3 separate regions of the Homo sapiens genome follow, and all the other regions are linked to region 3. Evidence: fine-mapped expression QTL. A gene starts in region 3. Each other region holds a variant in brackets. All regions are shown on one strand. Distances are from middle to middle.

What was found.
Region 1: its variant is fine-mapped to the expression of EBF4 in whole blood (TOPMed, PIP above 0.99).
Region 2: its variant is fine-mapped to the expression of EBF4 in whole blood (TOPMed, PIP above 0.99).

The regions. Positions count from the first base shown.
Region 1 is chr20:2,727,119-2,737,031 of GRCh38, forward strand. The region is part of intron 6 of EBF4 (EBF family member 4); the gene reads left to right. Among named protein-coding and RNA genes, the nearest start is that of EBF4, 39 kb to the left of the region's middle. The variant C/G (reference allele first, on the strand shown) is at 6,062.
Region 2 is chr20:2,739,447-2,749,359 of GRCh38, forward strand. EBF4 (EBF family member 4) reads left to right here. Exons shown (of 17, transcript NM_001395167.1): 7 at 9,103-9,184. Among named protein-coding and RNA genes, the nearest start is that of EBF4, 52 kb to the left of the region's middle. RefSeq lists a silencer at 3,850-3,899. The variant G/A (reference allele first, on the strand shown) is at 2,204.
Region 3 is chr20:2,688,039-2,697,951 of GRCh38, forward strand. EBF4 (EBF family member 4) reads left to right here and starts at 4,742. Exons shown (of 17, transcript NM_001395167.1): 1 at 4,742-5,744. The coding sequence starts at 5,608. It overlaps LOC105372507 (a long non-coding RNA gene), which reads right to left and starts at 4,582. Exons shown (of 3, transcript XR_937210.3): 1 at 4,028-4,582; 2 at 3,302-3,426. RefSeq lists enhancers at 5,913-6,897, 9,371-9,913.

The DNA.
Region 1 (9,913 bases), 39 kb after region 3:
AGGCTTAATAATATTCCATTATATGTATATACCACCTTTTATTATATATTATATGTTTATAACATGTATATATATTTTATTATATACATACATCGCATTGTATGTATATACTACATTTATCCATCAATGAACCCTTCAGTTGCTTCTATCTCTTGGCTATGAACATGGGTGTGCAGATATCTCTCTGAGATCTTACTCCTTTCCATTTTTTTGGATATACAGTCATCCCTCAGTATATGCAGGGATTGGCCAGGTTCCCCATCCTGCCCACACATGTACCAAAAGCTGTGAATACTCAAGTGCCACAGTTGTCCCTGCAGAAATGCATATATGAAAAGTCATCCCTCTGATAAGCAGGTTTTGCATCCTTTGAATACTGTATTTTTTAATCTGCATTTGGTTAAAATAAATCCACATATAAGTGTACCCAGACAGTTCAAACCTGTGTTTTTCAAGGGTCAGCTGTATACCTAGAAGTGGAATTGCTGAATCAATGGTAGTTCTATTTCTAATTTTTTGAAGAACCACCATACTGTTTTCTATTTAAAAGGTCGCACCATTTAAAAATCCCACCAACAAAGTTTCCAGTTTCCCCACATCCTTGCCAACACTTATCATCTTTTTTATAGTAGTCATCCTAATGGGTGTGAGGTAATATTTGATTATAATTTTGATTTGCATTTCTCTAATGATGTTGAACATCTTTTCATATGCTTCTTGACCATTTGTACATGCTCTTTGGAGAAATGTTCATTGAGATCCGTTGCCTATTTTTAAATTGGATTATTTGGGGGTTTTCTGAGTGTTGAGTGTTAGGAGTTCCTTCTATATTCTAGATAGTAACCCCTCCTCAGATATATGACTTGCAAATATTTTATCCCATTCTACAGGTTGCCTTTTCACCCTATTAATTGTGTCACTTTTATTGAAATCATGTTTAACTCAGATTAACCTGGAGGAAATGGAATATTTATGATACCAAGTCTTTAAAGTGCTTTGAAAATGTAATTCATTTATTGTATAAGTTGCACTAAGAAGGGTGCAAACAAAAGCAGCTTTACCATTTCTAACAACTGCCCTATAAACCTGCTCGGTGAGATCATTTCTCTCCATCCCTGGATGAAATAATGGACTATTCCTTCATCTTTTTTCCACCACTCTCATGAAATAAAAATCCTCTGATCACTTAGGTAAGAAAATGTCCAGAGGAGTGTAACAAACTCCAGAGATTGTCTGATTCTAAAGCATCTCGTCATCCTGGCTTGGTCCTGCCTTGGGTTTAGTGGTGAGGATGGGTTTGGTAAAAGGGTCTTCTCCCTTTCTTCATTCACCTTCACCCCTACTTATTACCTGTAGTCTAGAGTCACCTCCATGGTTGAGGTGGCTGAAGGGAAAAGAGGTTCGGGGGCGGGGGGTTGAAGGGACAAGGTGTTCCTAGGTGACACAGTGGCAATCTGTCATTTGTGCCTCTGGAAATGGTGAATAACCCTGGCTTTCTTTCTGAGCTTTTGTAGATCTCTCAAATCCCCCATCCAGGACCCTCTGATGGCCTTTTGTGATCCCCTCAGCTTCTAGACCTGATTCTTTATCCACAGCAGGATTCCTAACCTGAGGTCTACAAGAATACCTGTGGGTCCATAGGTAGAGTTCTGGGAACTTAGATGGGAAAATTCCATTTTTTTTTTACACAGTTTCCAGTCCTGGAAACCTTTAGCTAATCTTTAGCATTCCTTCAATGGTGGGAATGGGCAACAGATCACCATAGTATTAATACTCTGTGTAATTTTATCACTAGAATGGTTAATTTCCATATCATAGTAGAGCTGTTGCAGATATTTTGAAATCCCATTATACTCACTGCCACTTCAAGATTACTGTAGTTGTTAGAACAGCTACTAGATCTTATTACTTAATAAATTAATAAAGTGTGAATATAACTATATAACCATTTTAAAATGTTTTTTGATAACTTTCAATATAATTGGTTTATTTTATAATTCTATGAATTTATTTTGTACATATGAAAACAATATGCTGAGAATGGGTTCAATGGGTCCATGGCACCAAAAAAAAAAGGTTAAGAACTCCTGACTGAAAGCCTTCGCCGACTCCTATTGAGCGCATTTTCGCAACAGTTCACAGCCAGCCACGCTCAAAGAACCCAAATCTGGCTGATGAAAAACAGGCATGGTCCTTGCCCTAATCAGCTCTGAAACAGCATCCGGTTCTTAAAGCCACCCCCACCAATGTCTGGCCCCGCTTAGCTACTCAGGATGAGCTTGCCTTTCCCCAGCCTCTTGCTGATAAACTTCACAAGTATGAATTTAGTATGGATCTCTCTGCTCTTTGAATTCTAGTGGATGCTTGTCAACTTCTGCAAGCAGTCCTTTTGAAGCTCCCCTACTAGGCCGAAGTGAGACAGACACACCCCACACTTCCTCCCCATTGAGATGGGGGGAGCTACAGCATCTTGAGAGCTCCACCTACCACAGTTCCTATTTTTCACCCTAGAGAGAGATGATGAGCTCAAGGACAGTCTATGACCGGGTAGCATAGGTGGTCCAGCAGCTACATTGTCGTTCTTAACTTTGAGACCTCAGCTGAAACCAAGACAAAAAGAGTCCGTTTTCACATCCTATTACACAAAGAGTAGTAAGTAGAGGTTGTTACTATCTATAGAGATTGTTACCCTCTAGAAGCAGAACCTGAGGTGGGGATTCAATTTCCTCCCTCACAGGGAGTGAAGGAAGCAGGAGGAGGCAGGCAGCAGAGCTGAGTAAGGATGTGCATTGAACTGGAGTCCAACCTCCAGCCTCAGAGCCACTGGAAGCTCTGGAATGTGGATCCCACTCTGTGGCAAGGACACAGTCTTTGGCAGCTCTTTGAGAGCAAGTCAGTCAGAGGCTGCCGGCCAGCCCTATGGTGAGGGAATAACCACCCCTGGCATTTCCAGGTGCCCTGTGGCTGAGGGCACTTTGCAGCTGGGGGATGAATGCACTTGCTTAGTGTATTAGTTTCCTAAGGCTGTCCTAACAAATTACTGCAAGCTTGGTGGTTTAAAACAGATGTTAATTATCTCCCCATTCTGGAGGCCAAGTCTAAAAGCAAGGTGTTGGCAGGTCCGTGCTCCCTCCAAAGGCCCTAGGGGTGAATCTTCCCTTGCCTCTCTTAGCTTCTGGATTCTGTTGGCAGTCCCTGTGGCGGCATCACTCCAATCCCTGCCTTCATCTTCACAGTGCCTCTTCCTCTTCTGTCTAATCTCCCTCTATCCTATTGTTATAAGGACTTCATCACTAAATTTAGGGCCCACTCAGATAATCCAAATTGATTTCATCTCCAGATCCTGCAAAGACCCTTTTTCCAAATAAAGTCAGTTTCACAGGTTCTGGGATGTAGACATAACTTTTGGGGGGGCCACCATTCAACTCACTACCCCCAGTAAAGGGGGTTGGGGTGAGGCAACAATGACGTCCCCTATACAAGTAATCCTTAAGCCACCATATCACTCAAAACAAGCTCTGTGGACTCTGCTGTCCCCTTAACTGCTGGAGAGACTCATGAGCACACATACATGAAGCACTGTTCCCTTTAGGCATGCGAAGCTGGCCTGTCCACCCTCTGCAAAAACAGGACGCGCAGGGCCCTGTCGGCTGTGCAGCAGCTCTGCTGGTAGAAAGCATTCGCTTTCTTCTCCACCAGACTTCTTATATACCATCCTATCAGTCAGTGCTCCAATCATAAAGCCCATCTCATTTCCCTCCTACCAGCCTTGCTGGGTTTTTTGTTTGTTTGTTTGTTTTAGATGGAGTCTCGCTCCATCACCAGGCTGGAGTGCAGTGGCGCAATCTCGGCTCACTGCAACCTCCACCTCCAGGGTTCAAGCAATTCTCCTGCCTCAGCCTCCCGAGTAGCTGGGATTACAGGTATGTGCCACCATGCTTAGCTAATTTGTGTATTTTTAGTAGAGACGGGGTTTCACCATGTTGGTCAGGCTGGTCTCAATCTCGTGACCTCGTGATCCGCCCGCCTCAGCCTCCCAAAGCGCTGGGATTACAGGCATGAGCCACTGTGCCCAGCCCAGCTTTGCTGTTTGATGACACTGTAAGTTAGCATAATGTGCTGTGACAAAGAATCCCCAAATGTGGTGGCTTAAATATTTGTTTAGTTCTCTCAAAACAGTCCAGGGCATCAGTCCAGGGTGGCTCTTCTCCATAAAGTCATCCAGGACCAAGCAGTCTTTTCCTCAGCTCTCCCCTAAGGTGACACCCTCATCTGTATAGCCCAAACAGGCTCAGAGATACCAAAAGGGGATAGAAGAAATAGGGCATGCAGCTTACTTATAAAGACATAACCTAAAGGTCCCACCTTACCTCTGCTCATGCCATTAGCCACACCCTGCTGCAAGGGAGGCTGGGAAAGATAGCGTCTAAATGGGCATCCCTCAACCTAGGTAAGACTCAGAGGGTTCTATCATGAAAAGAAAGGAAGGAAGCTAGATAACGGGGACAGCCAGCATTCTCTGCTGCGGACATCTGTCTGGCCACTTCTACTGTCCTTCTTCCTACGAACAAACCAAGTTTTTCTCTGTCCGTGGGTACCAGATGCCTCTCTCTCTTAAGCAAACCCCTGTAATCTATGGTATTCCTTTTAGAACAGGGAACTGGCACAGAATCCAGGCCTCCATCTGCCTGTGACTTGATGGGCCTTGTGCTTCTGGGATGTGAACGTGAATTCTTAGGAATAGAGCTAAAGCCAGGAGTACCTCACCTTTCACTTGCCACTTCACATTGTGTGTGCAGAGCTTCAACACACAGAATGTGAGTTTCTTTATCAGTTGCATGCTAGGTTGGGCCCCAGTCAAACTTAATAGTTCTATGCATTCTTGCTAGTAGGGTATTGAAGTTGCCAGTTATTATTGTTTGTTCCTTCAATTCTGTTAGTTTTTGCTTCATGCATTTTGGAGCTGTTATTAGATACATGTGCTTTTTTTTTTTTTCTTTTGAGACAGGGTCTCACTCCAGTTGACCAGGCTAGAGTGCAGTGATGCAGTCTCAACTCACTACAGCCTTAGGGCTCACTACAGCCTCAACCTCCCAAGCTCAGCTGATTCTGCCACCTCAGCCCCCTGAGTAGCTGGGACTACAGGTGCATGCCACCACACCCAGTTAATTTTTTGTATTTTTAGTTGAGACGGGGTTTCACCATGTTGCCTGGGCTGGTCTTGAGCTCCTGGATTCAAGCAATCTGCCTGCCTCAGCCTCCCAACATGCGGGGGTTATGGGCATGAGCCACCACACCCGGACTGTTATTAGATACACATGCTTATAATTGTTATTTCTTTCTGATGATAGACACTTTTATCATTATAACATGTCCTTCTTTGTCTCTCATAATTTTTATCTTAGTGTCTATTCATAAATTAGTATAGCCACTCCAGCTATCTTTCAGTTAGGGTTCACATGTTATCTCTTTTTCCATCCCTTTATTTTCAAAGCCTTTTGTACATTTGAATTTAAAGTATGTCTCACATAGACAGCATATAGTTGGATTGTGTTGTAGTTTTCTTTTTTAATCCATTCTGCCAATCTCTTCCTTTTAATGAAGCATTTCATCCATTTATATTTAATGTAATTGCTGATAGAACAGGATTTATGTCTGCCATTGTGCTTTGTGTTTTCTTTTTCTTTTATTTTTTCTTTTTCTTATTTTTTTTTGAGACGGAATTATAAAGAGTTCCCATATATCCCCTATCCCCACAAATGTGCAGTTGTCTTTTAAATTAGATAGGAAAACAAAATCATTACAAACAAAAATACATTTATGCTGTCTTTTATGTTTACCTATGTAGTGACTTTTACCAGTGCTCTTTATCTGTTCATGTTAATTCATATTACTGTCTTGTCTTGTTTCATTTCAGACTGAAGGACTCCCTTTAGTATTTCTTGTAGGACAAACCTGTTAGTGATGAATCCTCTCAGTTTTTGTTTATCTGAAAATGTCTCAATTTCTCCTTCATTTTTGAAGTTGATCATTTTAGAAGTTGATAGTTTTGCTGGACATG[C/G]AATTTTTTGGTCGATAGTTGTTTTCTTTTAACACAATATATCATCTCACTGCCTTCTGTCCTTCATGGTTTCAGAAGTTATGTGGTGATCTTATTAAGGATTCCTTATATATGACGAGTTACTTCTCTCTCTCTCTCATTGCTTCTCAGATCCTTTCTTTTTCTTTGGCTTTCAAAAGTTTGAGTATGATGTGTCTTTGTATAGATCATACACTTTGTGTTCATACTACTTGGAGTTTACTGAGCTTCTTAAGATGTGCTCAATAATGTTTTTCATTACTGAGCACATTTAGGAAATTTAGGGGCATTTTCTTGAATATTTTTCTGTCCTGTTCCATCTCTACTCTCCTTCTCAGATTCCCATTATACATATACTGGTATGCTTGATGGCTCCCACAGGTCTCTTAAGCTCTGTTCATTTTTCTTCATTCTTTTTTCTTTCTGCTTCTGAGCTAGATAATCTCAATTGGCCTATATTCAAGTATACTGATTTTTTTTCGTCCCACCAAATGAGATATGTTGTTGAGTTCCTCTAGGTCAGGGGTGTCCAATCTTTTGGCTTCCGTGGGCCATATTGGAAGAAGACTTGTCTTGAGCCACACATAAAATACATTAATACTAGCGATAGCTGATGAGAAAAAAAAAAAAAAAGCAAAAACATCTCATAATAAGAAAGTTTACAAATTTGCAGGCTAATTCAAAGCCAACCTGGGCTGCATGTGCCCCGTGGGTCGCAGGTTAGAGAAGCTTGTTCCAGGTATTTTTAAATTTTACTTATTGTTCTTTTCTACTTCAGAATTTCATGGGTTTTTAAAAATATAATTTGAAATCCTTTATTGATTTTTTTGGTGTGACTTCATTCTCATACTTTTCTTGAATTTTTTAGACATAGTTTCCTTTAGTTCTATGAACATATTTATAATTGCTCATTTAAAGTCTTTATCTATGCCAGCTGCAGTGGCTCACTCCTATAATCCCAGCATTTTGGTAGGCAGAGAAGGGCAGATTGCTTGAGCCTAGGAGTTTGAGACCAGCCTGGGCAACATGGTGAAACCCTGTCTCTACAAAAACCTACAAAAATTAGCTGGGCATGGTGGCTCATACCTGTAGTCCCAGCTACTTGGGAACTAAGGTGGGAGGATCACTTGAACCTGGGAGGTCAAGGCTTCAGTGAGCCATGATCACACCACTGCACTTCAGCCTGGGCAACAGAGCAAGACCCTGTTCCAAAAATAAATTAATTAATAAAGTATTTGTCTAAAAATTCTAACCTCTGGGCTTCCTCAGGGATAGTTCCTGTTGGCTGCTTTATTACAATGTATGGGTCTTACTTTCCTGTACCTTGCATGTCTCATAATTGTTTGTTGAAAACTGGACATTTTAATCATATAATGTTGCACTCTGGCAATCAGATCCTCCCTCCCAATTTTGTTCTTATTGCTATTGCTGTTTGTTTGTTTAGTGATTTTCTTGGACTAATTATATAAAGTCTATATTTCCTGTCATGTATAATCACTGAAGTTTCTGCTCTTGGCTTAGTTATCAGGCCATGATTGGACAGGCATTTCTTTAAATGCCTTGAATGCCAATAAGTGTTCAACCCATTGCCAAAAGGTTCTGTATGTGTGTTAAGACATGCCTTCAGTGCTCCAGCGATTTACAACTCTGCCTTGACCTTCACTTCCTGCTTGCTCAGGGCCTTGGGATAAACCAGAGGTGAGAGACCAGGGGCTTTCCATGCCTTTTTTGGGCATGTGCCTCTCCCTGCACATATGCATAGCTTTCTAGATCTCCAGGAATATGTCAGAGCTTTTCAGAGCCCCTGTGAACATCTTATTCCCCACTTTTTCCTTTAAAATATTATGGCCAAACTTTTATTTGCCCCCAACTTGTATTGCTGCCTCATGTAGCTGCAATGTTAAGCAATTGCCGCTGGCTGTTTTCAACAAACACCCTGAAGATAGGGTCTTTCCCACTAAGTAAGTTCTGAATCGGGTCAAATAACAAGTTCTGCAAATAAAGCTGTCAGGGAGTTGCTAGAAAGGTTAAAGAGTGAAAACTGACTGGGAATACAGCTTGTTGAGAGGCTCCAAACCCACTCTACCCCTTCCTATGGTTGCTAGCTTGCTAGTTTTCACAACTACAATAGTGGTTGCAAGGTAGCTGGTCTTCAACAGGGCTGGGGAGTAGGGGATGGGAATAGGGCAAATTAAAACACCACAAAGCTTTCTGTTCTTATTACAACTCAGCCATTTTTCTTGCCTCAATGTTCCTTGAGTTGTTGCACACATGTTGTTAATTTTTAGAGTTCTGAGAAAGTTGATTTTGACCATGTTTGCCAGTGTTCTTGTTTCTTTATGGAAGAATGGATTTTCAGAGGTCTTTACTTAGCAATTCCCAAAGTCCTGTCCCTGTAATTGTTATTTCTTACCTGGGCACAAGTTAAAAGTGCCTTGGGGGCTTTAGTCCAGCATTCATCCAGTCACAGTAATTTTTGACTCTTGAATTCTATCATGAATCAATCAGCACCTGTTGTGGGGCTGGGACTATGATGGATGCTTGGGAGAAGAGAGGCTTAAACAATGATCCCTGCCCTCTGAGAGCTTACAGAGCAGTTGAGGAGACAAATATAATTATGTAAACAACAATTTATAATTTTGAAAAAAATTCGTGTACTTGAAGAAAGGTCAGTAGAGATTATCTATAATTACATAATAATAAGAAGAAATAGAAAACAATGTAAGGCTTGAAGACCACACTATCCAATAGTACTTTCTGCAATGATGAAAATATTCTGTACCAACCAATATGGTAGCCAATAGCCACACATATTTATTGGGCACTTGAACTGTAGCTACCGTGACTGAGGAATTGAATATTTAATTGTGTTTAATTTAAATCAAATTTAAGAAATAACACATGGTTACTGTATCTGACATCACAGCTCTAAGACTTTAAATATTTGCTTGATTGGCCAGGATGACCCTGTGGCAGGGGTAGGGAAACATACCCTCCCATGGGAGGCTCATAGCTCTTCTCTGGCTCCTAGGGATAGATAGAAGCTGGGGGCTATGGATACTCCCTGGCATTTAATTGTGCCTGCTGCCTGGTGGGTGTTGTTCAGTGACACTATTGGAATAGTTTAGGTCCGAGCCACCTGGCAAAGGTAAGCTCTGGTCTACTCTATTGGGGGCAAATTTAGACCCTAGATCAGGCACATTATAAGTGCAATTAGATGAAAGGGGCTGTGGGAACTGCAAAAGAATCAGCCCCCTTCCTAATCCACTGGTCAATGCAACATTCCCTGTTTTCCTCTACAGCCACAAAACTAGCCCAATGTCATCCATCTCCTTCCACGCTTTCCAGCAGGATCTCCCACACTCATGCTGCAAGCACAGACTTCTGTCCAGATCCATTCTGGCAATCCCCCTTGAGGTTCCAGAACCTCCCTGCTGGGTCAGTGCTGAGGTGAGACTAAGGTTTCCCTCTTGCCACCTGAATGCACTGCACTTCCTTCCCCATTCCCCCCAACCCCCACCACTCTTTTCAGAGCTGAGAGCATTTGAGAGAGGGAGAAGCAGAGGGGGTTCAAGAGAGATTCGCTCATGTGCTCCGAAGGTCATATAGGCTGAGATGCCAGTCATAAGGACAAAGGACCCCTAATGAAGAGGAAGGACTTATGAGGAGACCTCTGGGCAGCCGAAGCCAAGCTTAGGGCCAGACTGGCCTCCATGCTGAGACAGGAGCAGAGATTTGGACAGTGCCTCCATAGAAAATTGGGGGAAGAGGACCGGGCGCGGTGGCTCACGCTTGTAATCCCAGCACTTTGGGAGGCCAAGGTGGGCAGATCAC
Region 2 (9,913 bases), 51 kb after region 3:
TGGCCACTGCAGATTACACTTGGCACATCCTCCTGCCGTGCCCACCACTCTGTCTTCCTGAGTTTCTCTTTCCTGTTGGGTTGTAATTTCCTTAAGATTTTATACAATGCCGCAGTGCCTAACACATAGAAGGTATTTAATAAATCTTTTTAAGTGGGTGTATGGAATGAATGAGGGGATGAATGGCCCAGCCCTCTGTGTCCTCCTCTGTCCCTGAGCTGAGGGTAGAGAGAAGCAGACAGTGAACACGCTGGAGAGCCAGAAACTGCTTCAGTTTCTTCGGAGGCTCATGGGAGCCCAAGACAAATCTTTTAGGATAAAAATTAGCGGAGATCCCTGTCCCCTTATTTCCCCATCTCAGGCTGCAGTGCCAGCTTTGGGCTTGGAAACACATATCCAATTTAATCTACCCTTCACTCTTAACCTGCTGTCTTTCCCAAGGCCTTCACAGGACACACTGTTGTTTGGAACATCCTGCCCCAGCTCGTATATCCATTCACTGCATACCTTCTTTCTAGATCTGCACTGTCCAATATGGTAGTCTCGAGCCACATGTGACTATTTAGATTTATGTTCATTAAAATGGCTGGGCGCAGTGGCCCACGCCTGTAATTCCAGCACTTTGGGAGGCCAAGGCGGGTGGATCACCAGAGGTCAGGAGTTCATGACCAGCCTGACCAATATGGTGAAACGCTGTCTCTACTAAAAATACAAAAATTAGCTGGGCATGGTGGCAGTCGCCTTTAGTCCCAGCTACTCAGGAGGCTGAGGCGGGAGAATCGCTTGAACCCAGGAGGTGGAGGTTGCAGTGAGCCGAGATCACGCCACTGCACTCCAGCCTGGGCAACAGAGCGAGACTCCGTTTCAAAAAAAAAATAGATTTATGTTAATTAAAATGAAATAAAATTCAGTTCCTCAGTTGCACTAGCCACATTTCCAGTGCTTAGTAGCCATGCGTGGCTAATGCATATCATTCTGGAAAAAGTTCCCTTAGGGAGCACTGTAATCTAGACACGTTCTTCCTTGCCCCTGACAGACCTGTAGTGGAAAATGCACTCGGGCTCTCCTTCCAGCTCTTTGAGTTACTGACAGCTTTCTCTTTGGAAGTGAGAACATAATTTCAGCCCTAAGTATCTCATGGGGATGCAGGGAAGAAAAAGCTGGTGAAAAGCCTTAGCTCTGTGACCTAAGTTTTCTTAGGGTGGGATTCCTGGAAGCAGAGCCTGAGATGGGGATTCTTGTGAAAGAGGTTTATCAAAGGAGAGCTCTCAGGAGAAAAGGAATGAGTATAGAGGGAGTTTAACAAGGAGGTGGTCTCGGTCGGAGTCTAGCGTCAGCCTATCCCATGCAGAGGTCTGGAGTGTGAATGGCCAGAGAGTTGGTCCTCCTTGTAATGTCAATCTGTCATTGGCTGTGGGCTACTGGTGGGGAGTATATGCTCTTGGCTGAGGGTAATTCTCAGATTACCTTGGGGCAGCTGCGAGCCATTTGACAGTCTACACTGCAGCTGGGGCATGAGGGAATCAGGCAGGCATCAACTCACTGTAAAGTTCCTGGACGTTGTCTTCCAAAAGAAGCTCCAGGCCAGGCATGGTGGCTCATGCCTGTAATCTCAGCATTTTGGGAGGCTGAATCAGAAGGATCGCCTGAGCCCAGGAGTTTGAGACCAGCCTGGGCAACGTACTGAGACCTCCGTCTCTACAAAAAATAAACAAAATTAGCTGAGCATGGTAGTGTGACCTGTAGTCCCACCTGCTCAGGAGGCTGAGGTGAGAGGATCACTTAAGCCTGGGAGGTCAAGGCTGCAGTGAGCCAAGATCACACCACTGCACTCCAGTCTGGGTGACAGAGCGAGACCCTGACTGAAAAAAAAAAGCAGCTCCATCCCACTCTGCCTTCTACCCCCTGAAAACCTAGAATTTAACAGTGGACTCACATCAATTGCCTTCACACTTGCCTTCTCTACTGAGTGTCTCTTTTGAGTAAAGCACTGTGCTTGGGGAGTTAATGCAATGGTGTCACCCCTGAGAAGTAGTGTATAAGTTAAATGTTTGCACTTTAGCCATACTCAACCCAGAGTTTGCTTCTTTGGTAGGAAATACTCCATGGACAAGACGTTTCTTTTCATTTCATCTTGAGCTGTTTTTATGGGGAGGAATAAAAAGCGTTTATAGACATGATTACGAAGGCTAAACCAAGTTCA[G/A]GATGTGGTAAGGTGGGTGTGTGGGTGAACTACTCTGAGCTTTCCTTTAAGTCACAGGCATCAGAGTCATGATGCATAACTACCATCCTTTAGATACTTCATTAGTTGGATGACCACTGTTCACAGCTCTTCTTCTGGTCTTTCATTAAAGTTTTTATTGAGAATGTGGAATACAGGCAGAATGGAATAATGAAGCCCATATAGCCCCAATGAGCTAGAACAATTTTTAACTATTGGTTCCATTGTTTTTTAATACTGAAGATCTTCTCGACTGATAGCAGCAGTCACAACAGCCAAAAGCCCAAAACTAGGAGCAAGAGGACCTGAGTTTGACCTCTGCAACCCTGTTGAATTTGTAACCTCGAGGAAATCCCCACAACATACTATCCTGGTCCCCACACAGCCTGCCTCTCAGAGCTGCTTTTGAAGGCAGGCTTGCCGCTGCAGTACCAGCCTGGGTCGGACTCTGAGAGCCCCACTTAGAAGGACTTCTAGGACTCTTGTCGGCATCAGTGGTTCATAAAGACCCGTTTTCATATCCTTACTTTAGCATTGACTGTGACTTTGTCAAGTCACAGTCAATAGCTTAGCCTTGGTTTTCTCATCCGTAAAGTGGGAATGGTTGCAGACCGACACGACCTGGGGGATTGAGCAAGATAATGCCAAAGTGACAAACTCAGCAGCGTTCTGGGCAGTTGCTAAGGTGCTGAGTGCCTGATGGGTTAGACCTGGTTCCCTGTTTTTCTTTTTTTGTTGTTTGTTTGTTTGTTTTGTTTTTGCATAGTTACCTCCCTAATGCATTTCATTTGTAAGTCATGCTTGTATTTATGGTGTTTTCTTCCAGTAATCCTAATGGAAGCTTCTGCGACTTGGCCTTTCCCTTACTCCCTTTTCTGTGGGGTCTGGATTAGGAAGCCATGCCCTCCAAGAGCCTCATGGCCACAGTGGGATGGCACTGGGCACTGGTCCTGCAGTGGTCACCCTCCATGGGGATCCTCAGGTCAGAGAGGGCTGTGGACTTGGGCTCACTTTACTCCTCCCCACTCCCTGCCCCCTGCCCCCATCCTGGTCAGGAAAAACGGGCTTTCCTAGACTCCTTTTCAGCCCCATAGGGCCAGGAGTGGGGAGGGGTGCTCAGAGAACACCCCCAGGCTCATCCAAGCTTTAGAGGTGGGGGGTGGTTCCATGCTGACAAGCAGGGCTTCAAGCCCCTCAACAAAGTGCACATCCCTTCCTGCCTCAAGTCCCTACAGGGTGTCCCAGGCCCAGAACCTTGTCCTCACTTACCCAGCCCCTTCCCAGGCTCTCTTCTTTCAAGGGGAACACCTGCCCGCAGTTCCCATGTCCACATGTGTTCCATGTGTGTGTCTCCCTCCAACTCCCCTGCCCACCAGGTCTCTCACTCTCCCCCAGTCCCCAGCCCCCACATCTGGCCTCTGTGCAGACATGGCTTGGAGGACCTGCTGCCCCTCCTTCTTCTTCCCTGACTCCATTCTCATCCTTCCCTGACTGCTCAGGTGGAATAAAGTGTCACCCCCTGGGCGTCAGCCAAGGGAGAATTCTCCTGGGTTGTTCTCACGTTCGCCCTTCCAGCCTCTGCGGTGTGTCTGTCTCCCCCTGGTGGGCAAGGAGAGGACCAGGCAGCGGCACCCGGAGGGTCGGCAGTCTCTCTAGGTCCAGGGGAGAGCCCGGGCACTGCTCCTGGTTCTAGACCCCAACGGAAGTCCTCTAATTCCAGGTCCAGCCTTGGAAGGCAGGAGCCTTTAGGGGCGGGTCACCTTTGCCAAAGCACAGTCTTCAAAATGTCAAAAGCGTGATTCTCATACAAATTGCTACTGAGCATGTATCAAAGTTTTCTATAACTTATTGATGAGGGAACCAATGGGATGACAAAGCTGATTCAAAGAAGACGAAGAGAAAGTGATACATGTGCGAGTGTGTGAGTGCGTGCGTATATGGAAAGGGGTTGAGGGGAGGGAGGGAGAGGCAAGGGATTGTGTGGAAAATACTGGAATAAGATGGCCAAATTAGATATAAAGCTAGTTAATGTCCATAGGACAATTTTATCATCTTTAGGGCTAATTTCTCCACCAAACAGAAATTATTTACTTCTCCTGACAAATATCATTTGTTTCCAAGTCATATGAATTTGGGGGCGGGGAGTATAAATTCACAGGGTACAAGTGAAAGTATACAATGTGTGGTGATCCAATCCAGATATTTAGGGTGTCCATCACACAGGTACAATACATTTTGGCTAAGTATAGTCACCCCACTCTGCTATCAAACATCAAGTTTATTCCTTCTATCTTGCTATTTGTACCCTATAACCCACTTCTCTTCTCCCTGCCCCCCAACTCACCCTTCCCAGTCTTTATTATCTGTCTTTCCATGCTCTACCTCCAGGTCATCAAAGTTTTTATTTATTTTTTTTATTTTTTTTTTTTTGAGACGAAGTCTCACTCTTGTCCCCCAGGCTGGAGTGCAATGGCGTGATCTCAGCTCACTGCAACCTCCGCCTCCCGGGTTCAAGTGATTCTCCTGCCTCAGCCTCCCGAGTAGCTGGGATTACAGGCGCCTGCCACCACGCCCGGCTAATTTTTATATCAGGTCATCAAAATTTTTAGCTCCCACTGACAAATATCATTTGTATCTTATCAGTTTTCTACAAATTAGCACTTAACTTTATAGTCTGTGCTCCAATCAATCAATAGTAAATGCGAGTCACTTTCCCCTAGAGACATACACTCCAGTGAAGCATTGTCCGATATTAATATAATGCAAGCAAGCCACATATGTATGTAAATATGCTTTTTTCTTTTCTTTTTTCTTTTTTTCTTTTCTTTTTTTTTTTTTTTTTGAGACAGGGTCTCACTCTGTCACCCAGGCTGGAGTGTAGTGGCTCAACCTTGGCTCACTGCAACCTCCACCTCCCCCGTTCAAGCAATTCTCGTGCCTCAGCCACCTGAGTAGCTGGGACTACAGGCATGCACCACCTCACCCAGCTAATTTCTATATTTTTAATAGAGATGGAGTTTCGCAGCATTGGGCAGGCTAGTCTCAAACTCCTGGCCTCAAGCGATCCACCCACCTCAGCCTCCCAAAATGCTGGGATTACAGGCACGAGCCACTGAGCAAGGCCTCAAGTCACATATGTAATGTTAAATTTTCCAGTAGCCACAAGAAACTGATACAACTAATTATCATAATGCATTTTATTTAACCCAATATATCTAAAAGATGAGCATTCCCACATGAAATCAACATAAAAGATTACTGATGAATTATTTTATATTCTTTTTTTCTAAGTCTTGGAAATCTGATGTGTGTTTTACACTTACAGCACATCTCAAGTTCGGACTAGCCACACTGCAAGGGTTCATGCCGCGTGGGGCTGGTGGCTATAGTAATGGGTAGCGCAGCTCCAGTGCGGTAGTTCTCAAACTTCAGGGTGAACCAGCATCACCTGGAGGGCGTATGAATGCAGAGATGTGATTCTGACTCAGCAGGTCTGAGGGGAGGCCTGAGATTCTACACTTGTAGCAAGGTCTCAGGTGACGCTGACGCTGCTGGTCTTAGGGGGTGGTGCAGGCTCTCTGACTGGGAGAAGCCTCGTGGACTACCAGCTGGAAGGGAGTGAGGTTTCAGCCACACCATGGATGGTTTCGACTATGTGCTAGCTCTGAGGACAGGCCCAAAGGGAAGGGAGAAGGGGACTGACCCTCAGCCCCCACTGCAGGCCATGGTCTTGTGCAGCTGCTTTTACTCACCCACACTCTGCAGGTAATGCTAGCCAGGCTCAAACACTGAGGTGTCCCCATAGACAGAGGTGCTGGCAGGTCCCTAGGGCTCTCAGAAAGGGGTGGTCCTTGAAACCTAGAGTGGCCAGAAAATGGTGGCTGTACAGGGCGTGAGAATTGGTGTGGACCCAAAGGACAAATGAAACCTGTACTGTAAAGGGACAGTGGCAAGACCTGCTGAGCAAAGGCTTGGGGAAGGGCCAGTGAGGGAGCAGGAAACCACAGCCTTGGGGAGGGCAGAAGTAAAGGATGTCCCAGAGGCAGGACTAGAAGGTGTCACGGCAGCCGTCAATCGCTACTCTCCCTTCATGGGTGTGGAAGGATTTACCTACCCCGGGTCATGCAGAGAGTCCAGGCCTGGCCAGAGCCCCTATCTTGGCCCCTTCCCAAGGACCCTTCCTCTTGATCCTGTAGGTTTGAGTGGAGTGGGGTGCAGTGGGCACATGTGTCATCTTTTGGTGCAGTCCTATGCTTGTCGCATCTTCAGTGGTATCCAAAGGTGAGCCTTCAATCCCTTTAGGACAGAGACCATGCCCCATCCTGGTGTTTTTCCCTCCATCTAGCACCTGCCAAAGGACCGAGCACACGAGTACTTAATTTAAATGAGCTGGTCTGCCTGTGTGTGTGAGTAGGGAGTCTATACTCTGTCACATGTGAATGTGGGGCATGGATGAGGAACATGTCGCACATGTGGGTGTAGTGTGTTTACACCATGGGGTGTCATAAGGGGTGTAGGGAGTGATTAGTAACTAATAAGAGAGAAATGGAGTGCGCCCACTGTGCAGGTGTACCTCTCAGGAGCACTGAAGGTGTCTGCACCTTGGGGTGACCCATAGGGATATATATGGCATCTACACATTGGTGACTACTGTTTGGGGGCATAACAGCTGTCTGCACTGCAGGGTATCCTGCAGGGGTAAATGGATTGTCTACACTGTAGGGGTGCACCATTTGGGAAATATAGGGGGTGCCCACTGTGGGGGAACATGACAAGTGCTGAGAATGTAGACAGAGGCAGGACCCCAGGGAGAGGTATCTCTAGGAAGGTGACTGCCACCAGCTCCCAAGGAGGGGCTGCCTGCTGGGGACACCTCAGTTCCAGGGCTGGTGCTTACTCCTCCCAGCACTTGGTGACCTCCTTTTTGGGGACTGGGCTTTCAGGACCTGTAACAAATTTTCCTCTGAACAGAAATTTAATGTTTGCAGACTTTGGAGGCAACTCTGGTGAATTAAATGAACATTCAAATTTGGGGTATATAAGTAGTACATGAGTAACTATACCGTGGTTAAAGTTCCACCCCAGGTTTGGGACTCTTGTATTTGCTTTAGTAAATAGTATGGTAAAAATATCTCCCAATTGGGTGGAGGTAAAATGAGGAAGCTGACTGACTGGAGAAACTCATACAGTGGCCCAGGAGGCTGTTCCACATATCAGGACCTACTGCAGACGTTAGCCCTGCACTCTACAGTTTGTAAAGGGTATCTTCCCAGATGCTCACAGAGTGCTATAAGGCATAAGGCAGACACTGATCATATTCCGAGTTTACCAAGAGTTAAACAGGGCTGGGTGCAGTGGCTCATGCCTGTAATCCCAACACTTTGGGAGGCCGAGGTGGGTGAATCACCTGAGGTCAGGAATCGAGACCAGCCTGGCCAACATGGCAAAACACCGTCTCTACTAAAACTACAAAAAGTAGCCAGGCGTGGTGGCAGGCCCCTGTGATCCCCCTGTAATCCCCTGTAACTCGGGAAGCCAAGGGCTGAGGCAGGGACAATTGCTTGAACCCAGGAGGTGGAGGTTGCAGTGAGACATGGCGAGCCTGGGCAACAGAGCAAGACTCTGTCTCAAAACAAAAAACAAAACAAACAAAAAAAAAAAAACAGGAAAAAAAAGAGTACAACAGCCAGAATGTTGTCCATGGCTACCTTACTGGTAGGTGACAGGACCAAGGACCCACCCTCCCAGCCAACTGCCAGGAAGGAGAGGAGGACAAAGTGCTCATGTGTTTGTCTAAAAAGCAACCTCATCAGCGCATATGTGTTTTTTTCCCAATAACTCTATGTAAAAAAGAAGACATTCACGGTGTCTCTGTACCACATGTCTGACAGATACACCATGTGTATATGGTGGGTATGTGCTCTGTATGATTAAGCTTTTCCTATGTGTATAATGGATATAAAATGTGTGGGAGGAGGATATGCCATGTGGGAGGTGAATTTGCTGGGGGCATCTGCTATATGGGATGGCTTTACAGTATTTGCAATAACTATATTTTGGGTAATCATTTACAACATAAAATGCGTATTAATGTATTTGTTCTGTGTATTTCCTATTTCTCTGTGCATATACTGTGTAGGGTGGGCATACACCGTGCATGATGGGTACAGGCTCTGTGTCTGCTTAGTATGCCATATGTGTGGGATGAGTGCAGGCTATATGTGGAGTACATGTTGTTTATGCTTGTGTGAAGGTTATACCCCGAGTGTGTGTGATGGCTGTATTTTGTGAGTAATAGTATCCAAGGCATAAACAGTGTCTACAAAGAATGTGCTGTGTCTGAGGAGTGTACATGGTGTGGGTGATGGGTATACTCTGGGGAGGGATGTGTTGTATAACAGATGTGCTATATGGGTGATGAGCATATACTGTGACGTATACACAGTGTGTGATAACATTACATGGGGTATGTGTGCGTACACGCCACATACGGAGCATATATTGTATGTGTGATGGGTATACAGTGCGTTGGGTATAATGAGTAATAAGTATAGGTAGTGTATATAATGGACTTACTCTTCATGGTGAATATATACTGTGTGGGAGTGCTAAGTATACACTTTGTGGCATAAATAAGCCCTGTGTGATCAGCACACGGTGTGTATGGTTGTATAGCGAAGTTGTCATTGTGATGGGTCTGTCTGGTGTGTATCAGGCACCCTGGTATATGGAGGCCATGATGGGAATATGGGATGTGTGCCTGAGTGGGAGCAGGCAGAGGGGACTCATCCTGTGGGGAGGGGGCATGGCAGGGAGCAGTTGGATCTTCATCTGTTTCCAGAACCCCCAGACCCTTGAGCCCACCGACCACACTGTTTCAGGTTCTTCCTCAAGTTCTTCCTCAAATGCAACCAGAACTGCCTGAAGAATGCGGGGAATCCCAGAGACATGCGCCGCTTCCAGGTGGGTCTGGAGAGAGGGTTTCCCCTTGCAACCCCACCCTTTCCTGATGGAGGGGAGGGGAGGGGGAAGGGAAGGCTGTGACCCTGCCACCCTGGGAAAGGCCTCCAAGGCAGATCTCTGCCCAGCCCTGTGCCTCCCCAGCCTGGTTGGTGCCTGCTGGGGGTGGGGCAGCTCCTTCTCAACTTGTGCTGGCTGCCAAGGGAGGCTTCATTAGAGTCCCACTTAAGAAGATGCTAATTGTGACATTTTTACATGATTAACGACCCAGGCAATTTGCATAGCGTGAAGCGGAGAGCAGCTGCCCTTAGCACATCCCCAAGCTGCACACCCCTCTCAGTGCAGGGCGGGGGAAGAAGGCAGCCCCAGTTTTCTCCCCAGAATAGGGCAGGGGCTCCTGCTGCTGAGTTCTCCGGCTGATGCTGCCCACCTCCACTTGCCTAAGACCCCATTCCTGGCTTGGAGGTCCGTGGATACAACCCAGCATTCTGTGTATGCAAAAACAGTAGCCATTCTTTGCCTAAGGAGCCAGTTTTTTCAGGGGTCTTTATTTTTGTAGCGCCTGGGGAGTCAGTTCATCTGGGGGTATCACCTGATCCAGCTGGCCCCCTTCCACCAGCTCAGACACTGCAGGATTGAAGCCCTCCTCCTCCCACCAGTGACCCTAAATTCCAGCATCCAACCACCAGCCTCAAGGTGCTGGTTCCCCACCACATTCCCCTCCCGGGAGCC
Region 3 (9,913 bases):
GAACTATGAGAATTGCCATAATTAATGCGCGCTTTAGTTTTTGTATTCCTCCTTTCATTTTAATTACCATCGGGGATCTGACAGGAAGTGGATCCAAGTGCCGGCATCACACTCTGGGGCCTCCGGGGGGCGCTATGGCCCAACACACAGCGTGGCCAAGCGCGCCTCAGCCTAACTCACCACTTCCTATCTGTTTTATACGGTTTGCACCCGCTTAAGGCGGCGGAGGCGTGGGGGAGTTCTGCTGATGTAAAAAAAAAAAACATTGTTTTATGACTAGACCTACAGAAAAAATGTCCAAACTCCTTAGCATGGCATGTTAGGCACCAGCATGACCCTCCCGGTGCTGGGTGCTAAAACCTCCACCTTGAAGGAAGTGCAGCAAACCCATTCATTCCGCTCTGCTAGTCCTTACACAAGCTGCTCCCGGGCCCCTCCTCACCTTCAGGCTCAGGCCCTTTTTCTGTGCTTGTCCCAGGACTTGCTCCGCTTCTGTAACAGCCCAGGTCACTCCAGAGTGACATTGAGCATTCATGAGTCTCCTGCCACCTGACTGTGAGCTCATAAGGGCGCCACCTGGGTTTCATTATCTGCTCACTCTCTAGCACTGGCCACTCACAAAAAAGCCCTTCTCGTGGACATGAGCACAATGAAAGGGTAGAATGAGACCCAAGGCTCTGGCCTAAGGGTTTGTGGTGAGCCCCTGCCAGAAAAGAGTGGCATTCTCTGCAGGCGTGCACCACGCTTCCTCTGTCATCACCACCCCTGTAGCTCTCTGTGGCCACAGTTGGAGCACTTCGCCCCACCCCACCCACCAAATTCCTTTCTCATGGAGAAGATGCAGCAGTTGGAACGGGACAATATACAAAGGAACTAAGATAAATAATGCATGGCCGGCACAGTGGCTCACACCTATAATCCCAGCACTTTGGGAGGCCAAGGCATGAGGATCACTTGAGGCCAAGAGTTCGAGACCAGCCTGGGCAACATAGCAAGACCTCTGTCTCAAAAAAAAAAAATATATATTAGCCAGGCATGGTGGTGCACACCTGCAATCCCAGCTACTTGAGAGGCTAAGGAGGGAGGACTTGAGCCCAGGAGTTTGAGGATGCAGTGAGCTATTATCGCGCGACTGCACTCCAGCCTGGGTGACAGGGTGAGACCCTGACTCTAAAAAAATAAATAAATAAAAGGTTAAAAAATAAGATAACTAATGCAAAATAAAAGCGCACAGAGGGTTCCAAGAAACAACAGACTTTCACCTGGATCTAAAGCAGAGACACTCACCTCTGACCCCCAAGTGCTGCCCCAGAACTGCTCATTGACCTTCCTCCCTTCATCACCCCTTGGTTCAGCAGCTCTAACCCAGGAGCCCTTCTCTGGGGCTGCAGGCTCTGGGAAGCCTCAAACACCATCCTGGCTGGTTTTCTGTTCCATGTGGTTAGGATAGAACAGAAACCCACGCAAGTTGGGAGTCTGCCCCAGCTATGACTGAGCCTTAACTCAGTGCCACTTTCCTGGGCTGACTGATTCCACCTTCTGCGCAGGTTAATTCTGAGCATCTATCCCCCAATCTATCTTGGGGACAACCTTCCAGAATGAAAAGCACTCCAACCAAATCACTTCAACCATCACAAAAAGGAATGCTGCAAAGTGAGGGCATTCCGGCAGGAAGGGCCAGCCAGCATGAAGGCTGGAGCTGGGAGACAGGGAGCTGGGTTTGGGAAACGGTGTGATCTCCCATGCTGGATAAGCAAGAAACTCACACAGCAAGGGAGTGGAGGTAAGGCTGGCCGGCAAGAGAAATTGGATAGGGCATCAAAGGGCCTAGAATGTTCCCAAACTAAGGGCCTAAATGTTTATTTGAGAAGCCACAAAAGACATTTAAGTTTCTAAGCAGGCGATGGCCCAATCCAAGCAACACTTTTTAAAACTGTGGCAGGAGGATGGGGGTGTTTGGGGGTGAGCAGCTGGGGACGGGAGCTAAGGGAGGAGGCTGTGGGCAGAACTGGGAATTCCATATCTGCTCCAAGCCAGGGTGGAGTCCAGTGGAGGAAAAGTACGTTTTGCTGTTAGATATTCTCTGTGGGCACTGGGGTAGGGAGGAAAGGGAAGGGGGACCCGTTAAGACCAAACAAACAGGTAGCTGCAGGACAGGGAGAGAAAAGTATTGGAGATGATTCCCAAACTCCAAGCCTGGTGGGCAGCAGGAGGAGGTGCCCAGCACAGACACAGGGGAGTCAGGAAGAAGAGCTGGCTGGTGGAGAGTGAACCTGTGGAGACCAAGAAGCCCCATCCCAGCCTAGGGACAGAGCCTCTTGGGATAGGGACCCTCCCCGGAGGCAGGTGCTCCTCTCCTCTCTGAGGGCCAAGCCCAGCCCTGTCCTCACCCACTGATGTTCAGGACTGACAGAAGTGAGAGTCCCATATGGGGAGACCATTTCCTCAAAGATGTTCTCTGAGACTGTGGAGGAACGTGAATTCTGTGAGGGGAGAACAGAAGAAGAGCGCCAGGCACAGCAGCTTGAGGTGCTCAGAGGGCAGAGGAGAAAGACAGTGTGCTCTGGTCATCAGGGCAGTTTCCCAGGTGTGTGTAAATATATATACACCAGATATATATATTTCCCAGGTGTGTGTAAATACATACACATGCATATATATATGTGTATATATATATATATATATATATCTGGTCACCAGGGTGGTTTCCCGTGTGTGTGGGGTTGGGGGGTGGGGTAGCCCACTGCTGCCAGGAGGTCCCAGGCCCTGAAGCCCAAGAGAGACCACGGAGTCTGAGAGCAGAAGCAGGAAGGCAGGGCTGGAAGGGAGCCAGCACACAAGGGCCCCAGGAGTGGCTTGCTGGGGGCCAGTCAGGCATCCTTGGCAGAGCGTTCCTGTGAACGGTCTCAGACACAGGAGGGGCAGAAATTGAAGAAGGAGGCGAGGAGGAGGGGACAGTTCTTTTAAGAATGGGGAGATCTGAGCAGAGAAAAGAACATATTGAGACACAAACAGGAGATCGGTGGGGTAATCTCAGGAAAGGCAGAAGACAGGACTAAGCAAAAAGGTTCCACATCCATCTCCACAGTGGAAGACCGAGAGAAGAGAACGGGTGAAAAGACAGAAACGAGGAGGAGCATACGCCGCTGATGGTGCCAGCAGGGTTCTGCCAAGATTCCCTGAGTCCTCTCCACTGGGTAAGAGGAAGGGTGTCTGCTGGAAATGAGAGAGCCAGAGGTGGGTCTGAATGTTGGGGAGAGGAGTGGAGCAAGTGTGGAACAGCTCTGGGGGGGCTTCTCACATGTAATGTGTGTACAGGTCTTGGTAAATTGCAGGTTCCGATTCAGCAGGTCCCGGCAGGGCCTAAGAGTCTGGATTCCTCACCAGCTCCCAGGTGATGTCAATGCTGCTGGTCCGGGGACCACACTGTGAGAAGCAAGATTTAGAGAGGCAGATCAGGAGATGGAGAAAGAGACTGGCTTAAGAATTGTCTTAAGGAGAAACCCATGTTTGATAATCCCACCTAGGGTAAAAGCTGAGACCTGAAGGAGTCCTGGTGGGAATGGCAGCCCCCTGTGGGTGATGGGGAGAGGCATAGAGAGAAGGGGTGGTAAAGAGACCAGGAAAGGAGGTGAGAGGGCCTCTGTGATGGCAGGAGAACCAGCAGTGCCCCCAGGACGCCTCATCTGGGCCAATGTGTGACAGAACGCTAACTCACACTTGGAGGCCCCCCAGAAGAGGATGGGAGTGAGTTGGAGCAGGAAGGTGTTATTGCAGGGGTGTCTGAGCGTGAACATGGCAGGCAGGGCAGGTGGCCCCCATGCTGTTCTGCAGGAAAGTGCTGGACTCAGTCTGGGCTTGCTCGAAGCCTGGCCAGGACAACGTGGGGAGAGGGGCAGAAATGTCTCTGCCCCACGGTCAAGGGCCAGACGACTTCTGTGCCAGGAACTAATAAAAAAAAAGGAATGGGATCTGAGACGGGACGCGGCTGGGGAGAAACAGGAGGTGAGCTGGGCTCTGAGCCTACCTGTCCAACTCGCAATCAGAAATCAGGAGGTTCCTGAAAGGCACAGATGGAAACTGAAAATGCTTTAGGCTTAGGTAACCCAGCATCAGGAATCGGGATGGTTGGATGCAGGGACCTCGCCCAGCTTGTCTGGGGCCGCAGCCTACGGCAGGGACGTTTCAGTCCTTAGCTGGGGTGAAAGTGAGGTCAGGGTCGCCGGGGAAATGCGGGAGTACAGTCACGCGGGAGAAAGACGTCAAGAGCGAAAGCTCGGAGGCGTCAAAATGAGCAGCAAGTCCAGGCACAAGGCGTCGGGCGCGGAGAGTACGGCGGGTGCCGGGGGAGGGAGATGAGGCCGCGAAGACGCCGGGGCTTCGTCCGGCGGCGACGGGGAGGCCGCGGAGGTTCCCGAGCGCAGCGGGGCGCGCACCTCCCGCTCGGGCCGGGCTCCCTCGCCGCGCGGCCCCGGATCCTCCCTGCGCGGGTTTCCGTGGCCCCCGCCGGGCTCTTCCGTTCCCTCCCGCGGCCTCGACCAGGCCGCAGCCCCCAGCCCAGGCGACCGACTCGCCAGGGTCCGCCCCGCCGCCGCGGCCCGGGCCCGGCCGCTCCTCCCCCGATGATGTCACGTCCCCGGCCGCCCCTCGGCCGGCCGCGCCGCCCCGCCCCCGCCTCCCCCGGGCCCCCGTCCCCTGGGCCCGCCCGCTCCCGACATCCCTCCTCCCGCCTGCGCTCCCTCCCTTCGGCTACCGCTCCCCCGGGAGCGGCGGCGGCGGCGGCGGCGGCGGCGGGATGGCCCGGGCCCGAGGCCAGGCCCCGGGGAGCGGCGGGCGGCGGCGGCCGCGGCGGGGCGGCGCGGGAACCGGGCCCCGGGGGGAGTCGGCCGGGCTGCTGCTGCTGCTGCTCCAGGTGCTGCCGCCCGGGGCTACGGCAGGGCCGGGACGCCGGGGCACGCGGGGCGCTGGCGCTGGCGGCGGCGGCGTCTGCTGGCCCGGCGCGGCCCCAGCCTTTCCCCGGGACGCGCGGCTGCTGCTGCTCCTGCCGCCGCTGCCGCCACTGTCGCCGCCGCCGCCGAGCTCCGCGCCCGCAGCCTCCGCCTCCCGGATGGTAATCAGCGCCCCGCGCTGGCGCCGCGGGCGGGCGGGCGGGCGGGAGGTGGGGGCGGCGAGGGGGAAAGGGCGGGCGGCCCCGCGCCCCCGCCTTGCCCGAGGCAGCTCCCGGGGCGCTCGGGCCCCCCCTCCGACGACCGCGGCCCCGGGCAGCCGCCAGAGCGCGCCTCTGGGGCGCCTCCGCGCGGACCGGGTGCGGGCTCCGCTCCCCGCCCTCCCCGCCCCGCTCGCAGTCCGCCCGCCAGCGCTCAGGCCGCGGGGGAATCCCTCCATCTCCCCGCCCAGCGCCCCAGGAGGGGAGGGGACAGCGCCGGCGCCCGCGGACCCGCTTTCTCCGAGGGAGCGCCCAAGAGGCGAGCGCGCACTGAGCCACCCGGACTCGGCGCTGCGCTGCTGGAGGCGCCTGGTGCCGTCGGGTCGGGCTGAGCTAGACGCCCGCAGCCTCAGCGGGACCGGATCCGGGGCGGCGGGGGCGCTCACTCACCGCGCGCCCTCATGTTCCCTGCGCAGGACGCTCTGCCCCGCAGCGGGCTGAACCTGAAGGAGGAGCCGCTGCTGCCCGCCGGCCTGGGCTCAGTGCGCTCCTGGATGCAGGGCGCGGGCATCCTGGACGCCAGCACCGCGGCGCAGAGGTAAGCGCTCGGACCGGACCCGGTGCGCTCGGGTTGGACGGCTGCGCGCCGCCTCAGCTCAGCTTGCTGGAGCTGCTGGAGCCAGGGGCGGAAGGAGCCCTAACTCTGGACGGTCCCGGCGAGCTCCCCGGCCCACCCCGTCCGGAGTGCCTGTGCTGCCTCCTGAGGCTGTGGGGCGGGCTGGGGCGGGGCTTCTGCCTCCACTCCGGGCTGCCCCGGTAGATTTCTGACGGCCGCTCGCGGGTGCGGCGGTGAACGCCACCCCAGCCGGGCTGTCTATGGCTCTGAGAGAAGAGGCAGAGCTCCCAGCCATGACCCACAGCCACCGGCCGTCTAGGAACGTCCAGCCCCTCCTTCCTGGGCAGTCCCAGTGACTCTCCTTGTCCAATTCCGCAGCTCTCTGTCAGGAAAGGCACGAAACCCAGCCCCCTTTTTCCTTTCCCACGCCCCTCAGAGTTGGCGGATGGGGGTGTGCAGAGCCAGAGAAGCGGCTGGGGGCTGGACGGTGGCGAAGAGATGAGGTGGGCAGTCGGCCTGGCTGGACTGATTGGCCTGGGAACTGGGCAGGGCCCCTGCCTTTCCCTCGGGTGTTTTTCTGGTAGGTCCTTTGGAAGGCAGAGAGTCCCTGGGAACCCAGCACCCGCGCCGGTCTCCTCTGACTCCTTTGCAGGGGTCTGGGAGTCTCAGTAGGGGGTTGACTCCAGGATTTGAAAGCGAACTTTAAAAGTTTATTGACCTGCCCCCAAAGCCCCTGCACCCCCTGGCTTTTTGCACCTTCAGCTGTGACCATGGAGGGAGGCATTTAGGTATCCTATGGGGAGTCACAGTGGTTAGGATTAGGGAGGTGCCAGCTCTGCTGACAGCTGGGACAGGGTGGGCACTTGGCTTCCCAGAAGTCTGAGCTGTTGCAGCAGCCCGAAGGGATTCTGAATGGGGGGCTTAATGCAGACCGGGCCTGACACAGGAGCCCACATTCACACTCCGCAGGACGCCTCAACCTCACCGTGTAACAGACACACACCGCGCTTCATGTGCAAACTGAAGCCGTTTCTGCACGCCGGTCCTTTCCTGGCTGTCGGGAGGGAACGCTGGGGGGCTCTGGAGCTGATCTCTTACGGAAGAGAAAGGGTCTTGTGGATGAATTAATTTCCAAAACTTTTACAAGGGATATAGCTATATTCTAGAAAAATTGGAAAATAAAAAATTTAGTCCCTCCTCTGTAATACAACTACTGTCAACATTTTAGTGTATTTCCTTCCTATTTTTCTTCCCATTAACTTGTGTTTTCCTGTGCTATGCTTACAATTCCACCTCCTGCCTATTCTTCTGTTGGTTCTGGCTTTTTTTTTTTTCAACTTGAGAAGGTTAGTTTCTTAACATGGCCCCCTCTTTGGCCCCACCACCTGCTGTGTGGCGAGAGCTCTTTGTAAGAGTGGGTGAGGAGTGCTGATGGGGGCCTCTGGGAGTTAAGGTTCCATTTCTCTGCAACCTTTCCCTCTGTGCCTACCCAGAGGCAGGTCTGATGAAGGGGAAGCAGACGTGAAGGAGGCAGTGCCCTTGGAGACTGCGTGGGGTTCAAGAAGTGTGGGGATAAGGCTTCCCCCAGAGCATGGGCCACAGCAGTGGTGTCTGCGCATAGTGGGGTTGAGTGGGCTTGGGGTGTCCAGTCTGACTCCCCACATTGTGAGGGCCACATTGCTGGGATGCAGAGGGCTTCCGCAATGTGAACAGGGGCTTTCTTCAGGCTCGGTCTGCTAATCCCCAAGTGTGGAGACTTCTCTGTCTCAGGACATAGACTAGGAGCCCCCACTCGCTTTGTTGTTCAGCTGACTTTCCTCCCTGTCCCAGAGGGAGCTGCCTCATCCTTCCTCCCCACTCTTCCCCGTGTTGTCTGTCATCACTACAGTTGTATCTGGTTCCTCAGTCAGTCCTCTGCACGGGTCTTCTCATCCCAAAACAGCAACAATGAAAATTCCTCCCCCTGGCCCTGCCTCCGCCTTCATCACGGCCTGGTTTCTCTCCCTCTCATCTCTGAGAAACTTTCACGGAAGTGCTCTCCCAAAAGACTCCCTGGGATCCGAGAGTTGGCTTTGACACCTTCCTCAGCCTCACCCCACAGTTGCCTGATTGTCAAGGCTTAGGAATGTTCTTTTCCGTGTCCTAGTCCCAATCTCAGTGCCCTCAGCCACCACTTTTAGCAATGAAACCCCCTGGCCCTCCACCCGCTTCCTCCCTGGCTTGAAGGTTAACTGCACCCTGGTTACCACCTCAGCCTCCTGGCCCAGTGCCTAGCCCCAGCCATTCACCACTCCCCTAAAACCATCTTCCCTGCATTGGGGACCAAAGCAGTATTTCCAAAGTACTTTTTTAAGATCATGTCTCTCTCCGATTACAAATAAAGTGACCAGGCTGGGCGCGGTGGCTCACGCCTGTAATTCCAGCACTTTGGGAGGCCAAGGTGGGCGTTTCACTTGAGGCCAGGAGTTCGAGACCAGCCTAGCCAACATGGTGAAACCCTGTCTCTACTAATAATACAAAAATTAGCTGGGCGTGGTGAAGCATGCTTGTAGTGCCAGCTACTTGGGAGGCTGAGGTGGGAGGATTGCTTGAGCCCGGGAGGCAGAGGCTTCGGTGAGCCAAGATCGCACCACTGTACTCCAGCCTGGGCGGCAGAGTGAAACTGTGCCTCAAAAATAAATAAGTAAATAAATAAAATAAAATAAAATAAAGTGACCAACCCCCAAGCCCCACTGCTTCCTCATGGATATCTCCAACATTCAAGGCCTATCATGGTCTGACTCCAGCCTTCCTCCCCAGCCTCCTCTGCATGATGCTTGGCAGGCAGTGGATACTTGGAGAATTAGCTGCGCCTCCAGTAAGTGCTATGGTCTATTGAAACAATCCCTCTGCCCTCAGCACCCGCACATCCCCTGGATTAAGTCTCACCAGCCTCAGGACTCCCTCTTACACCCACCGACCCCAGCAACTGCTCTTTCTGTGCCCTCCCACCCTGCCCACGGGAGTGGCTTTAATGCTGCCTACGAATGCTTACCATAGGCCAGCATCTGCTCTCCTCTGCCTGTCCCGGTCCTCCTTGCCCTGCCAGCTGGGGCCTTCCCCTAAGGCAAGGGTAGCGGTCCGTTCATCCTTGTGTCCACAGCACCCAGGGCAGGCTCAGGCAGTCCATGGGGGATGGGGGTGATGACTGTCTGCCGGAGGAAGCAGTAATGTTTCTCAGAGGCTCCCAAGTCCCCTTATATTGGTTCCCCTCTTGACTTTGGAAGACTCCAGGTTCTACCTGACCCAGGAATCAGCTACTGGAGCAGCTTCTCCTGCCCAGTTCTACAGCTTGACTTTTACAACAATGCCAAGATTTTACAGAAGGTGGGTGGGGAGGAAAAGGCCCAGAAGGCCTGCTAAGATCAGCGAGGGAGGCTCTGCCAACAGGAAGGAAAGTTCTGAGCAAAAGAGGGGTAGGGAGGGCCGGGTGCGATGGCTCACGCCTGTAATCCCAGCACTTTGGGAGGCCGAGGCAGGCAGATCACGAGGTCAGGAGATCGAGACCATCCTGGCTAACACGGTGAAACCCCGTCTCTACTAAAAATACAAAAAATTAGCCGGGCGTGGTGGCGGGCGCCTGTAGTCCCAGCTACTCAGGAGGCTGAGGCAGGAGAATGGCGTGAACCCGGGAGGCGGAGCTTGCAGTGAGCCGAGATCGCGCCACTGCACTCCAGCCTGGGTGACAGAGCGAGACTCTGTCTCAAAAAAAAAAAGAAAGAAAGAAAAAGGGGGTAGGGAGAGCAGAGGGGCTGCATACCCTTAAACTGGAGGCAATGGGGATGGGAACGCTGGTGGAGAGGGCTGCCCTCTCCCTACCAATGTCTTCCTACCAGGGAAGTCTGCACAAGGACCCCCTGCCCCTGCCCTGAGCCAACAGGACGTTATCTCTGAGATCCATTTGCCCAGCCCCAGCCCATCTTCCCCTGACTCCCCTGAAGACTCAAGTCCTCCTGCTGGCACACTCAGCACAGAAGTAGCTCTCTTCTCCTTCTGATGTGCTTCCCAGTCTGGGGAGACCTCTGGAAGGCCCAGGCCAGACCTCCCCCTGGAGCTGATCCCTGCACACTAGCAGGGCCCCGGAGAGGGAGGCCAGCTGGGGCTGCCTTTCC